Homo sapiens: one gene and its partner. The protein of the gene in region 2 purifies or fractionates together with the protein of the main gene of each other region. This does not show direct contact. Each region holds a gene or a part of one and is shown on either strand. Other genes may lie near its edges. The genes, in order: TOP3A and LSM11.

Region 1 (3,820 bases), on a different chromosome or scaffold from region 2:
CCTCTCATTTTAATGATTTGGCAGAATAATAACTGCAAAAAGACTAACTGAATTTTGAATTTTGTCATCATTCAGAATGTTACCATGGTAATGACTTCAGTTTCTGGACATTTACTGGCTCATGATTTCCAGATGCAGTTTCGAAAATGGTCAGTACAATTCTCAAGGGAAGGACTTTCAGATTATAGTAAGTTGTGAAATTTCACAGGAATTTTGAGGCATGTTGATCTTACTGGGTAATTTTTTTTTTTTTTTTTTTTTTTTTTTTTTTTTTTTGTTGGAGACAAAGTTTCAGAGTGAGACTCTGTCTCCCAGGCTGGAGTGCAGTGGTGTGATCTCGGCTCACAGCAACCTCTGCCTCCTGGGTTCGAGTGATTCTCCTGCCTCACCCTCCCGAGTAGCTGGGACTATAGGCACGTGCCACCACACCTGGCTAGTTTTTGTATTTTTAGTAGAGACAGGGTTTCACCATGTTGACCAGGCTGGTCTCGAACTCCTGACCTCAGGTGGTCTGCCCACCTCAGCCTCCTGAAGTGCTGGGATTACAGACCGTGAGCCACCATGCCCGGTTTTTTTTTTTTTTTTTTTTTGAGTCAGGGTCTCGCTGCGTTACCCAGGCTGGAGTGCAGTGGCGCAATCTCGTCTCACTGCAACCTCCGCCTCCTGGGTTCAAGCGATTCTCATGCCTCAGTTTCCCAAGTAACTGGCCTTACAGCCATGTGCCACTACACCCAGCTAATTTTTTCTATTTTAGTAGAGATGGAGTTTCACCCTGTTGCCCAGGCTGGTCTTAAACAAAGCAGGGTTTGCCTTCTTTTGCCTCCCAAAGTGCTAGGATTACAGGCGTGAGCCACTGTGCCTTGGTAATTTATTTATTTATTTATTTATTTTATTTATTTTTTGAGACGGAGTTTTATTCTGTCGCCTAGGCTGGAGTGCAGTGGCACAATCTTGACTCATTGTAACCTCCACCTCCCGGGTTCAAGCGATTCTCCTGCCTCAGACTCCCGAGTAGCTGGGACTACAGGTGCCTGCCACCACGCTTGGCTAATTTTTCGTATTTTTAGTAGAGACGGGGTTTCACCGTGTTAGCCAGGCTAGTCTCGATCTCCTGACCTCGTGATCCACCCACCTTGGCCTCCCAACGTGCTGGGATTACAGGCGTGAGCTACCACGCCCAGCAGTAATTTATAATACTAAGATGACCTAGGATTATCTGATCCATTGTGAATTTTTATTAAATCTTTAAACAGTCACTTTTGGTGTTCCTCAAAATTGCCAGACCTTTTTCATGCAGCCATTGGATTGCATTTACCTGTGAAAGGGCTCCAGAATGCCATCTTATCAGTCCTGTTCACACTCTTGGAGAAGTGGACAGTGTGTCATGCAGAGGGTCATAGCCTTACTTTCAATTCACCGGGACCTTTTCTTTTGGGGATACACCATGAACCCATTGGAACAGTTTGCTGTCATTAGATTGGAGGGCTCTCTGTCATGTACTGAGTTGGGACTCTGTTTTCATTTCTTTTCTAGGCAGAGCTGCAACCCTCTTGTCCTCTTTGAAGCAGAAATTGAAAAGTACTGCCCAGAGAATTTTGTAGACATCAAGGTAGGGTCTTTTGGAAGACATATGGCACTGAGTCAAACCACAGAGTCAAACAGAGTGATTTCTTTGTTTTTAATGCATTGGCATTTGGAGATAAGGTTTTCCACCAAAGTCACTACCATGATTTAAAAAGCTGGTTCCCACCCATTGTATAAATGTGGCTAAGTGGCCAAGGGACTGAAGTAAACTTTTTTTATGAATGGTAGTTGTTTAAATCCTAGGAATAAAGGCTGGACATGGTGGTTTATGCCTGTAATCCCAGCAATTTGTGGGGCCAAGGCAGGATCACATGAACTCCAGGAATTTGAGACCAGCCTGGGCAACATAGTGAGACCCTATCTCTCAAAAAAAAAAAAAAATTTAACCAGGCATGGTGATGTATGCCTATAGTCCCAGCTACTAGTAAGGCTGAGGAAGGAGGATTACTTGATCCCAGGAGGCAGGAGGTTGAGGCTGCAGTGAGCCGTAATCACACCACCACACTCCAGCCTGGTGAGAAAGTGAGACCCTATCAAAAAATAATCCTAAGTATTGTAAATTATTAGCGCGTAGCCCCCATCTCACCCCTTGTTAGATGAAAGAGGCTACAAAGTATAAATGCCTGTTTGACAGTAAATTGCCAGTTGTCAAGCAGTCAGGGCATGTATAGTTAATTTATTTTTAATTTTTATTTATTTATTTATTTATTTTTTGAGACGAAGTCTCGCTCTTGTCCCCCAGGCTGGAGTATGATGGTGCAATCTCAGCTCACTGCAACCTCTGCCTCCAGGTTCAAGCGATTCTCTTGCCTTAGCCTCTCAAGTAGCTGAGATTACAGGCGCCTGCCACCACACCCGGCTAATTTGTGCATTTTTAACAGAGATGGGGTTTCACCATGTTGGCCAGGCTGGTCTCGAACTCCTGACCTCACGTGATCCACCCGCCTCAGCCTCCTAAAGTTTTGGGATTACAGGTGTGAGCCACCGAGCCTGGCCAGTTAATTTATTGAGAACTGATAAAACTTTGGATGAAATTCAATTGGGATTCATTTTGTTTTGTTTTGTTTTGTTTTGTTTTGAGATGGAGTCTTGCTCTGTCACCCAGGCTGGACTGCAGTGGTGCGATCTCGACTCACTGCAAGCTGCGCCTCCCGGGTTCATGCCATTCTCCTGCCTCAGCTTCCCGAGTAGCTGGGACTACAGGTGCCTGCCACCATGCCCGGCTAATTTTTTGTATTTTTAGTAGAGACAGGGTTTCACCGTGTTAACCAGGATGGTCTCGATCTCCTGACCTCGTGATCCACCCACCTCGGCCTCCCAAAGTGCTGGGATTACAGGCGTGAGCCACCACGCCCAGCCGGCTTCGTTTTTTTTAACTAGGTCATAATCAGAACCTCTCGAAGTGTGCGTGCGCGCGCGCGCGCGCGCGTGTGTGTGTGTTAGAGCTGAATTTCAGGTTTTGTCATATTGGGGAAGTTATATTAAACCCTCTATTCTAGAAACTCGTTTATGGTTCTAAGGGGTTGTATCATGATTAGCACCAATGAGAGCAGTTTTCTCTGTTCTCTTTCCCTTGCCAAGTTGTCACACTCCAAGAGCAGCATTAACCTTCAGTCAGATCCCCTTAGCTTAGAGATGTCAAGTCACTGTTGTGCAATTCTGTTCTCACCACTCTTATTCCACTGCGAACTTAAGAAAACTTTGGAACGAGAGACTCGCCAGTGCCAGGCTCTGGTGATCTGGACTGACTGTGATAGAGAAGGCGAAAACATCGGGTTTGAGATTATCCACGTGTGTAAGGCTGGTAAGTGCTGCTGCTGCTGCTGACTTTCTCTACTTTGGAACTCCATAAATAGAGTGTTCTTGTTTATATGTGCACATGGGCCACGGATGAGGTCCTCTGCAGGTACTCTCCCTCCCAGTCTGTGAGTCCCACCAGCCATGTGTCCTGGAGCAAATCACTGAGCCATTGGGAGCCTCAACTTCCTTGTCTCTAACATCAGGCCAATCTGACATGTTTCCTGGGACTGCCACAGAGATTAGATGAGTTAATGAGTGGTGTAAACCATTTAGCCCAGGACTCATTTCTTGTTAGGTACAAGCATACAAGCAGATACCCGGCTCCTTGAGAACAGGGACTTTATATTCTTTTTGTTGTTGTTGTTGTTGTTATATATTGAATTCTTTTAGTATTTGGTTAATGGAAGCAAAAATAGAAAAATAAAATTACATATTG
Region 2 (3,820 bases):
CTGAGTATCTGGCTCCTATGACACTACTAATAAGCATCATGTGAAGAGAGCAGGATAATGACTCATAGGAAGAATATTGAGACTATAAATTTCAGCTTTTATTATGAAGGATTCTCAGAGCGTGGGAGGAAAGATGAATTTTATTTTTATTATTTCATGTTAACTCAGCTCTCACAATATGCTGGCTATGGTATATAAAACCTCCCAAAAGAAAGCCGTACACATTCTTTTTTCCTGAGACAGGGTCTCACTGTCACCCAGGCTGGAGTGCAGTGGCACAATCACAGCTCACTCCAGCCTTGACCTCCCTGGCTCAAGCGATCCCCCTAGCTCAACCCACTGAGTAGCTGGGACTACAGGCACGCACTACGCACCCCCAATCTCTCTCTCTTTCTCGTGCGTACACAGTCTCACTCTTTCCCAAGTTTGCAACGCAAAATTCTGTAGAAAGTTTATTTTTGGTCAGGTCTTAGAAGTCTGGATATATAGAGTATTTGGCATTGACAGTAGACAAATGAAAAATCTCTCCTGCTTTGTTTCTAGTGACATAAAGGAGAACAACAGTCCTGCACTTCAGTTTGGATAACTAAATTGGTTCCTCCTGAAGCCACCTTATCCCTCTGTCATGGATTGGCTTATAAATGATGGCTGTGATAAATTAATAAAAGATTCTTAGAAGAAAATGACTTAGCAGACTAGCAGGAGTTTATGTCAGATTAACGGTGTGAGAATAACTCGGAGTTGGAAGCGACACGAAGCAGTGACTTTGGAAAAGACCATGAGAATTCTGGTCTGACCATCATCATTTACCTCTCTTCTAGCAGTATTTTAAAGTCCTTTGTACATTTGCTAGCTAAGGGTGTGTATGGGTGTGTGGGTGTGTGTGTGTGTGTGTGCGCGCGTGCGCGCGCGTGTATATGTGTTATAGGCCATATTAAATCAAGCATTCAAGCATTGTAAACAATTTTCAGGTCATTATAACTAGTTGTGTGAACCTGATGAATAACTTTTTCTTTAAGTTCCAAATTTCCTCATTCATAAAATGAGGTTAAGATAGTTAACTTGTAGATTTATTTCAGGACTAAGTCCCAATAACTCAATTTCTTAGAAACTGATCACATGCTTGCATTATTTCTTTTCCTACACATACATATATACTGCCCCCTGCCCTATGATGTATGTTTATACAAAGAGTGGAAAGACTATTTTTTTCTAACTTGGAAAAAAACAGGGACATTACTTCTTTCCCACACCTCCAAAAATAGAAAGGGCAAGCAGGTATCTTAGCAACAGTCTCTTACTCTAATTAAATAGATGGCAAATTCAGGTCTTTCAATTGGTCTTTCTCAAACGTGTACCTTTAATTTTTTTCTTCCAAAGATTTAATAAGGTGTAATTCCAGGAAGCATTGCTCTCCTTGTATCCTTGTGTGATCAAAAGTACGACACTAGCACCACCTATCAGAGCAAACCGCCAAGGCAAAAATGAGCTCCCCATTCTGAATCAGAGTGCACATTCTCTTTCCAGCCGTCTCTGTGGCAAGCTCCAAATGGATATGAGTCAGGTTTCTATGACCAAATATGACAAAAAAGCATATGCCTTATCTTTGGAGAAAGTTACTCTTCCAATCCCCTTCTCTATTGCCACATCCTTCCAGATCCAGGTCATTTTCAGCTCCACTCTTCCTTCTCCTGCTACATGTAAATTATACCATCACAGCCTGATTTTAAAATAACTGTTCTCAATCATGCCCTTCTTTAAAGACCTAAAACTTGCCTCTTACAGTAACTCTTGTTTTCCTTAGAAAGAAATATTTAATAGGAATGTAGGAACAGAAGCCACGTCTGCGTCTCAGGTGGCGGCAAAACAAGATGGTGGATCCCCGTGCCATGACCCCCAGATGCAGGGCTTATATGCTACAGGGAAAGGGTGATTCAGAAGGGATGTGTAGGACAATTGAAGTAAGATAACGTCAAGGTTGTTCTCATGTAAGGACAGGAATTACAGTAAGTACATGCTCTTACACAAGAAACAACAGATAAATTGGAAATCTTAGAGGCCTTCCCAGAACTGGGTTTAATCAGAAGTCAACATGGTGGACTGGCATTCAAGATGGAGTTGCTTTAGCCTCCACAACTACCTATTCAAAGATTTAAGGACAAAACTGTATCTACATATATATCTCCAAATATACAAAGTTATTAGCTCATTAGGGCAAAGGCAGCTCCCCAGATTCCATAACCTATTAAGGGCCCAGAGAAATGAAACCACAAACTGTAACAGTCACCTTATGAGTCTGCAATGGAAAAATATTTTCTCTTTTCTCTGAAAATAGTTTTAGTTGCCATTCTATAGAAGGGTGCCATGACAGATTGAAAGTACAATGTTTGAATCAGTGACCCGGCAAAGGCACATCAGTGTCTTCCCTATTGTGATGCTATGTCAAACTGGCCTAAACACACACACACACACACACACACACACACACACAGCAGTGTGGTGCAGAAATCATCTGAGACTATTCCTTAGTTGCACTGGAGACAGCTGACTGGAAACAGCTGCAATGAGCTGAGAAAAGTGACAAGGCTGAATTTTAAGCTTGGCCTTTTCTGAAGCCTAAGTACCGCTGTTCTCGGTTTTATGTAAGTCATACTCATGCCCTTTTGGCAACCTCTGTGTAACAGAGATGCTGTTCAAATTTGAGAGTTCATTTTACTGCTGTACACAGGGCTCAGATGTTCTTGATTTTGCCTATTTTCTTGCTCTTTATTTGCAGGAAGTGAAGTCAAAGTTATCCAAAGAATATCACTTTATTAAAATGAAAACATCAAGACACCATATTGTGGGAAATTATTTCAGCAATCAAAGTAAACTACAACAACAGGACTCAAACAAATTTTCAATCATGGTATCACGTCAGAGGCCCAATAAATCAGGTTTGTTTTGAAATCCTTCTCAGCAGGATGTGTGCGAGTAAAAGGACTGTGTAGGCTCCCTGCAGGAAAACTGAATTTGGAACTGGAGACAAGCCATTCACCTAGACAATGGTCTAGGAGCCAAACCCTGCATGTCATATGCATTTTGGATTGACCACACACACTTGTTCACACCGGCACAGGCTGCACACCAACACACCTGTAGCTAAAACAAAGTAATGATAACACTTTTTCTTACAGCTTTATAATGTCAAGACGTGAGCTTGAACACACCAGTTCATTTCACAGTGACAGATATACCTAGAAAAAGCTTGCTTGAAGCACAATTATAAACCAGAACCACCGTGGGCTAGGTATGGTGCTGCGATACTAAGGAGAAATATAGACACTAGAATTATGTGGAAAAGAGGATAATGCTCTTTAGTCTTGTCTTACCATCTCTATAGGCATGTCAATATTAAAAAGGAGGAAAAGCAATTGCATTCCACTTGCAAGTACAGCTTGTGTGTGAGTTCTTTGTTGGTATCAGTGATGGCTTAGGCTTAATGATGACGAAAAACCTTTCCTCCTATGCTTTTTTTCTTCTTTAGTATTCCCAGTATTGCAACAGCCTCCTATACTTTTATTATTACTTTTTTTTGAGACCTCGTATCACCTCTGTAGAGGTCTCTATGATGTCCCTATGATCTCGGCTCACTGCAGCTTCCACTTACAGGGTTCAAGCGATTCTCGTGCCTCATCCTCCTGAACAGCTGGAACTAGAGGCAGATGCTGCCATGCCCAACTAATTTTTGTATTTTTAGTAGAGACAGGGTTTCACCACGTTGGCCAGGCTGGTCTTGAACTCCTGGCCTCAAGTGTTCTGCCCGCCTCGGCCTCCCAAA

The links.
Region 1: the proteins of LSM11 (region 2) and TOP3A fractionate together in Homo sapiens (co-fractionation; one large-scale study listed by BioGRID). This does not show direct contact.

The regions. Positions count from the first base shown.
Region 1 is NC_000017.11:18,304,680-18,308,499, reverse strand, and holds part of TOP3A (DNA topoisomerase 3-alpha), read left to right. Parts: intron 1-75; coding exon 76-149; exon of another isoform or gene 150-187; intron 188-1,004; exon of another isoform or gene 1,005-1,027; intron 1,028-1,533; coding exon 1,534-1,609; intron 1,610-3,279; coding exon 3,280-3,388; intron 3,389-3,820. UniProt on the Homo sapiens protein: Releases the supercoiling and torsional tension of DNA introduced during the DNA replication and transcription by transiently cleaving and rejoining one strand of the DNA duplex.
Region 2 is NC_000005.10:157,746,665-157,750,484, reverse strand, and holds part of LSM11 (U7 snRNA-associated Sm-like protein LSm11), read right to left. Parts: intron 1-3,820. UniProt on the Homo sapiens protein: Component of the U7 snRNP complex that is involved in the histone 3'-end pre-mRNA processing. Increases U7 snRNA levels but not histone 3'-end pre-mRNA processing activity, when overexpressed. Required for cell cycle progression from G1 to S phases.